Linked DNA regions of Homo sapiens. The protein of the gene in region 1 purifies or fractionates together with the protein of each later gene. This does not show direct contact. Each region holds a gene or a part of one and is shown on either strand. Other genes may lie near its edges. The genes, in order: RAPGEF3 and NUP205.

Region 1 (3,822 bases):
GAGGCTCTGGGTACCTGTGAAGCTGTACTTCTTACCTCTTGATGATGCCTTTAGCCCAGGGAAGGCTTCCGTGAGGGAATGAGTGCCAGCTGTGAGCATGCACGCCCATGGTGAAGGGGTGGAGCCCGAGTCCCAGGAAGACAGCACTGCCAGTTATTGAGGCCAGACCTCCCTCTTCGAAAGCCAAGGGGAAAACCCATCAACCTCCCAGAGAAGAAGTCTGAAGACAGCTCTTTCTGTTCCTACCTAGACCAGGACAAGAGAAAATGAAAGCGGGTTACAGTAGGAGGGCTTGCAGTTAGATACAGACTAAGATAAGACTTAACAGCTATTGCAAAAGTGACACTGGAATGGGATGGAAGAACATCTTTGGAAAATAAGAGGGGGAGGTGAGATCTTGTCTGATGTCCGGGGGCAGGGGCAAGATCAGAGTGACCTGTGGTGGGTTCTACTAGCTCAGGGAAGTCTGAGATGATTCTCTTTGTGTGACTGTTCTTGGGGAAGTGGCCCTGTTTTGTAACTCCGAGAACGCACTTTCATTCAACCTATCCAAATAATAGTAGTAGTTAATAGTTATACAGTACTTATGTGCCAGACATTATTGAAAGAGGTTTGCCTTTATCATATCAAATAATTCTCACAACAGCCCTGTGAGATAGGTACTAATGTCATCATCTCCATTTTATAGATGTGAAAACAAAGCCACAGAGAGGTTAAGTGACAGATTCAGAGTTACGCAGCTGCTAAGTGGCAAAGCTGGGCTTTGGTCCCAGGCAATCTGGCTGCAGAGTCCAAGCTCATAACCACATAACCACCATGCTGCACTTCTCTCTTGCTACGAACAGTAACACTGACACCTTAAGGCATCATCCCGGCCCCATGCACCCTTCCCCTGTCCCACCACAAGCAGCCCTAGCTTGACACCTTAGCTATGGCCCAAGGGAACTGGTCTGACAGGTCCCCAGGCTGTCTGGCTCTGTGCCTGTCTCTCCAGCCCAGCTCTGACATTCAGTGACAGGGAGTGAGGGTGGGGCAGGCCACAGTGCTGGTGCCAGGGGAGTTAGTGCCTCCTCTTCCGCCCTGAACCCTTTCTGTTCAGGAATGAGAGTGGGGAGTGGGTGAGGAGGACCTTCACCTTGACTCATATCAGCTGCTTCTTCCCAACTGAGAACCCTGAAACTGACATGACTAGCATTGTATTTTTTTGCACTGTGTCCTGGTAATAGGGCCCATCATGAAATAATAACATCTGATCAAGTCAACTAAACTTACTAAGTAGTTACTATGATCCAGGCACCATTCCAAGTACTTTATATTATTAACTTTTTGATCCTCATAACCCTTTGTGATAGGTACTATTCATATCATCAACCCCAGTTTACAGATGAGGAAACCGAAGCACTGCAAACTTCAGTAATCAGCACGAGCTCACACAACCAGATGGTAACGCAAAAGCTAGGATTTGAACCCAAGCATCTGGCTGCAGAGCCTACACACTTGACCACTGCCCTTGAATAGCAGCCCTCTCTCCGCCCCATCCTAGAAGGTTGGCAGGCACACAAACATCCTGGGGGCACAGAGAGGGTAGAATAACAAACCTGTCTATCTTTGTCTAACCCAGTGGTTTCCAAACTTACTTGCCCACAGAACTTGCCTGAAGGCAGAATACCTCTACTGTCTGTGCCTATAGCACAAAGCTGAGGAAACATGGGAATAGGCATAATGGAAGACGGTAGGGCATAATGCTAAGAGCATGGCCTTTGGAATCAGACATAGGTATGAATCCTGGTGCCCTTATTGACCAACAGTTAGGGCAGGTTATAGAACCTTGGAGCTTTCTTTTCTCTAGCTGTGAAATAGGAAACAAATACCTACCTCTGGGGTCAGCACCAGTAGCAGAGTTATTCAGTAGAATCTTACCTTTCTAAATAGTTGTGTGATCTCTCTGGGCTTTTGCTTTCCTTGTCAAAATGAGAGGGATTCCTTAAAGTCCCTTCCTCAGTGCTCATGGACTAGGGCCATTCTCTGACCTGCATCCTCATCCCCTGGGGGAGGACAGGAAATGACCAACCTGGCCACGTGACCCAGCACCACCCCTCCTAATGTGCCCTCTCCCAAGTCAGAATAATACCAGGAAGGGGGCTGGTGCTGGAGCCTGGGTTGTGGGCTCCAATGGGAGTTGGGGCAGGGACTGGGGCCACCTGGGCATTTTGATATGAACAACAAGTCATTAGCACTCAGGCACTGTTTGTTCCGACACAGGGGGCTGGCTGGGTAGCATTCCTGCCCTTCCTCCCTTCCCTGGCTCCTCCTCCTTCTCATTTCCTGTCGTTAAGTCTCCAGGGCTCTGTGTCTGGCACTGGGCTGGGCCCCATGACCCGGGCAGGGATACCCTTGGGACACCTAGTGACTTCCGCCCAGCCCTGGGCCAGGCGCCTGCACATGCCAGACCTCAGGCCTCTGCTTGGGCACGCAGTGCCAAGATGCCTGTGCCCAGGGCCCTGCCAGCACCAGGACTGGTTGTACTGCAACTCCCCAGCAGGTCCTTTTCAGGGACCTGAAGCCAGATGGGAAGCTAGGAGAGAGGTGGCTGGTGAGGGGAGAGGAAAGGGGCAGGTGGGGTGGGTGTAGGGAGACTGAGAATGGGAGCACTTCTGGGTGGGAACTTGAACTTCTCCACAGCTGTCTGGCTGTCCGAAGTATGCGCAACTGAGTTACACAAGGTACCTCACCTCCAGGCTTTTATTTCCTTGTAAGTGACAGAGGACAGACAATGCCTGCTCTGCCTATTTCACATCTGATCCTATTTTACATGAGATCCAATGAAATCAAGGGGGCGATTGTGCTTTGTAAACTGTAAAGTGCTTTGTAAACTGTAAAGTGAGCCCTTTGAGAGGGCTCGTAGATGGTAGAGCATCCTGTCCAGAGATGTCCACAAACCCCAGATTCTCAGGTGGTAGGAAGAGAAGGGTCGTGAGGGGCTTTCATGGCCATTATTCCAGGGCGTACAGGCCCGGGAGTTCCAAATGGCTTGTTACCAAGGGCAGGGAATCCTTACTAAGCAGTGTTTCCATGATAAAGTGCGTCTTCCTGAGCCAGTCCTGTGTGCCACCAAGGACTTATTCACTCTCGCAGGGCACAGGCTAGCAACATCTCAGAGAAGAAAGACGCTTTCCAGCAAGCAGCCCCACCCTAATGCCTCACAGATGAGTACTAGCTAACATGTGCATACAACTATATGCCAGGCAATGCTTTAAACATTCGATGTGTAGCAACTCATTTAATTCTCCCAAAACCTCATGAGTCGGTATTATTAGTGCTTTGTAGATTTTACAGTTCAGGAGACTCAGGTAGGGAGGGAGAGGTTAAATCATTTGTTTCAGGTCACATCTGCCATCAGTGGGGAAGCAGAGATTTTAATCCAGGAGCCTGGCTCCAGGGTTTGTGTTTTGACAACCAGGCTGATCCGAGGCCCAGAGATGGCAAGACACCTGCTCATGGGCCTGTGGAAGGACACAGAACCTGGCTGGGGATCAGGTCTGTGACCCCAGCCCAGGAGCGGATGTTCCCAGGCCTCCTGAGCTGCTCACATCCTGGCTCCCATCTCCCAGGTCTTCTTATCTCATGTCCTCATGCTCCTTCCAGCTCCCTCACTTCTTTCCCCCAACAGGGGCAGTTCACCTGGGGGCATGGGCACACCTGGGCCCTGAGTAAGCAGAATGGGTGTCTTAGGGCTCTCAACTGTAGGGAGGCAGTCCTTGAGTTGGGTTTGGTGATCAGGATGGCAGGGTGGGAAGAGGCGATGCCCGGGGCACAGGGTGC
Region 2 (3,822 bases), on another chromosome or scaffold:
CTCTGGCTGCTGTGTAGAGAAAAGAGAGAAAAATTTCTATACTATAAGCAGTTTGTTTTAATTATAATGGAGGAGCCATTTGAAGAAAATATGGGCATGTTAGTTGAACAAAAGTTTAATATGTCTAAAGATAATATATGGCTACCAAAATCCTTTTTGACCTAAGCCTGCACTAAAAGAAGTATGATATTGAGAATGAGGGGGATGTTCACTAGACATGCTTGAGTTTTGAGTTTAACTCGGAACTTTCATTTAACAAACATTTCTTCTATACCTACCATGTGCCAGGCATGGTGTTAATTATATCACTCCAGTGATATAAAGATGAATAAAATCTCAACTAGTGTAAATACGCTCATATTCTAATAATTGAGAATGATGTGGAAACAAATATTTTGACACAATTAAGTACAATTAATGCAGTTTTGTGCAAGATTTAGAGATGGTCCAGAGATTTAGAGATGGTATTAGATGGACCTTGATTGTACAGAGAACTCTTAACAACATCATGAAGTTTAAGGTAGATGTTGCAAAATGAGTAAGCATACATCAGGTGGAATAGGTGGTTATTTGGGAGGATGAAGGGCATCCAGGCAGAAGAAATTGCCTGTGCAAGAGGGTGAAGCAAGGTGATGAATTTGGGGAACAGAAAGGAGTAGAGTGGAGGAGTAGTTGCAGTAAGGGGAAAAGAAAGCTTTAGGAAATGAAACTGAAACTATAGGCAAAGTACTCTTAAAAAAAAAGTGAAACTTAGCCAGGCGTGGTGGCTCACACCTGTAATCCCACCACTTTGGGAGGCCAAGGCAGGTGGATCACGAGGTCAGGAGTTCAAGACCAGCGTGGTCAACATGGTGAAATGCCATCGCTACTAAAAATACAAAAATTAGCTGGGTGCTATGGCAAGTGCCTGTAATCCTAACTACTCAGGAGGCTAAGGCAGGAGAATTGCTTGAACCTAGGCGGCAGAGGTTGCAGTGAGATCACGCCACTGCACTCCAGCCTAGGTGACAGAGTGAGACTCCATCTCAAAAAAAAAGGTAGAACTCATTCAAAGGAGAGTAGTTAAAAGGTGACTGAACTTGAATTATAAAAAGGTTGTTTATTCAGAGAAGATTCCGAGGGAAGAAACTTAGAAATATTTGAAAGATTCCATATGAGATAGTAAAATGGGCATTGAATAAAATTAAATTTAGTGGACAACAGTGAGACCAAAAGATTCTCACCCAGTATGTAGAAATCACAGGTAAGTGTGAGAGTTAGAAATTGAGAGTTTGGAAAATGGTGAATTCCATGTCCCTGCTGGTGTTTAGGGATAAGTTGGATGGCCCTCGAATATGTTGAGCAAGAAGTTAGACAGTGGATGGATGTTTGTAGTAGAGGACCCCAGGGCCCCTTAAGCCCTGAGCTACTGTGATTCTTTGAACTGAACATTGTTATATTGATTTTTGTCTCCTCCTAAACACATACGTGTTTATTAACAATATTATTTCTCAACTTCCTTTTTTAGGAGAGCATCAACAGCCACATTTTCCTGGCCTTACCAGAGGATTAGTAGCTGTTCTTCTGTACTGGGATGGAAAGCGATGCATTGCGAATTCCTTGAAAGCCTTGATACAGTCTAGACGGGGAAAGACATGGACCCTAGAACTCAGGTCTTTTTACTTCTTGGGATTTCAGGGGTTAATTTGAAATTACTTGAAGTATGACAATATTTCCCTTATTATATACAATCTGAGCAATATGTAACATAAGCTGAGTAATATACTCCCTTATTCTGCCAAGACAGATATAACAATTTAAACCTGTTTTATTGTGTTTATAAATAAAAAATAATTTGGACCGAGGTGCAGTGGCCCAAATTATTTTTGGATTACAAAGTGCTGGGATTACAGATTACAGTCTTGAGCTCAGGAGTTTTAGATCAGCCTGGGCAACATGATGAAATCCCATCTCTACAAAAAATAGAATAATTAACTGGGCATGATGGCATGCACCTGCAGTCCCAGCTACCTGGGAGGCTGAGGTGGGAGAAAGACCTGAGCCTGGGACGTCAAGGCTGCAGTGAGCCATGATCACGCCACTGCACTCCAGCCTGGGTGACAGAGCAAGGCCCTGTCTCAAAAAAAGAGCGTTTGCTATACCTATTATTATGAAGAAGCATAAACAATATTGTTTAACGTAGTTTATTGATTTCTTTTCATTACAGTCCAGAGCTGGCTTCCATGACAACACGCTTTACAGATGAGCTGATGGAGCAAGGATTGACTTATAAAGTTCTTACGCTGGTGTCACAGATTGATGTGAATAATGAGTTTGAGAAACTACAGCGAGAGAGAGGTTTGGGCAGTGAAAAACATCGCAAAGAGGCAAGGGTTCAATGAAATCAATTCATGAGTTGTCTGTCAAATCTCAGAGGCAGAAACATGACAATTAGAATGTTCATTTTTTCAAGATGAATTATGTAGCTGATACCATGCCTGATTGCCACTTTTCTTTTTTTTTGCTTTTATTATTTTTCATTGACACAAAACTGTACATATGTATAGGGTACAGTGTGGTATTTTGATACATATGTATGATATGTAATAAATCATAATTAGCATATCCATCACCTCAAACGTTTATTATTTCTTTGTGTTGGGAACATTCAAAATTCACTGTACTACTGTTTGACAGTACAGTATACAATAAATTGTTAATTGTAGTCAGCTCGTAATGTATATTAAAGTTTGTAGTCAGCTGTGTCCATAAAATTGACTTGCAGTTGTTTCAGCTTCGGTATAGTCATTTATGTGCCATTCTAGCTCTTTTTATGAAATGAACAAGAAATTGGTCATCCCAATTTCTTAAGGAACTTAAGGATAAGGAATAAACAATAGGGTTTGTTCAGAATTCCAGAGGTGACGTCTTAGGATCACTTGTGGATTTTGATAGGTTTTTTTATTAGCCTTTGTAAAAGGTAGTTTGTACTTTGGAATAAGACCAGGCTTCACTGTAATTTATTTATACTGATAGTCATGTTTTTATTTCTAGGTTTCTGATCTCATTAAGGAGTGCAGGCAGTCTCTTGCAGAAAGCCTTTTTGCCTGGGCTTGCCAGTCACCTTTAGGCAAAGAAGACACTCTCCTCCTCATTGGACATTTGGAAAGAGTGACAGTTGAGGCTAATGGCTCACTGGATGCAGTGAATCTGGCTCTTCTTATGGCGCTTCTATACTGTTTTGATATCAGTTTTATAGAGCAAAGCACAGAGGAACGAGATGGTATTGAGTTTTATACATTTTCCTACATTAAAAAAATCAGATTTAAAATTGTGGGGATAACATTTAAAAAGGGTGATATTTTAGCTACTAAAATAGTCTGCTCTGTTCCTGTGTTTGCAGTCCGTTCATATTTGAATATTTATATATAAGATCACATTTAAAAAACAGCTGCAGTCCTGTTAATTATTTCTGTTTTTTGGGGGGATTTGGAATGGAAAGTATTAAAGCATATATTATACATGTTCATGATTGCACATGCCTAATTTACTTAATTGCTTGTTTCTTTACCATTCATTTACATTTTCAAACTTTTTATTAAAACATTCTGAGACAGTGACTGTCATTTCAGTAATGTAATCTTTGATCTGTGTTTTCTGTGAAGTAAATAAAATTTTTGTGATCTTTAGATAGCATGATTTCTATTTTAGAATTTATGTGCAGAAAAAATGAGTGTCTAACTTTTTTCTTGTTTATTTGTAGTACACTTATAAAAATGACTGAAAATAGTGAAATTGAAATTTAGGATTATTGTCATTTTCTTTTTTTGTTTTTAGTATGTG

What was found.
Region 2: the proteins of RAPGEF3 (region 1) and NUP205 purify together in Homo sapiens (affinity purification with mass spectrometry, with the first as the bait; one study listed by BioGRID). This does not show direct contact.

The regions. Positions count from the first base shown.
Region 1 is NC_000012.12:47,752,126-47,755,947, reverse strand, and holds part of RAPGEF3 (rap guanine nucleotide exchange factor 3), read left to right. Parts: intron 1-35; coding exon of another isoform or gene 36-99; exon of another isoform or gene 100-246; intron 247-1,920; exon of another isoform or gene 1,921-2,014; intron 2,015-3,822. Other genes in the region: SLC48A1 (heme transporter HRG1), read right to left, coding at 36-99. UniProt on the Homo sapiens protein: Guanine nucleotide exchange factor (GEF) for RAP1A and RAP2A small GTPases that is activated by binding cAMP.
Region 2 is NC_000007.14:135,574,763-135,578,584, forward strand, and holds part of NUP205 (nuclear pore complex protein Nup205), read left to right. Parts: intron 1-1,507; coding exon 1,508-1,652; intron 1,653-2,206; coding exon 2,207-2,366; intron 2,367-3,033; coding exon 3,034-3,262; intron 3,263-3,822. UniProt on the Homo sapiens protein: Plays a role in the nuclear pore complex (NPC) assembly and/or maintenance. May anchor NUP62 and other nucleoporins, but not NUP153 and TPR, to the NPC.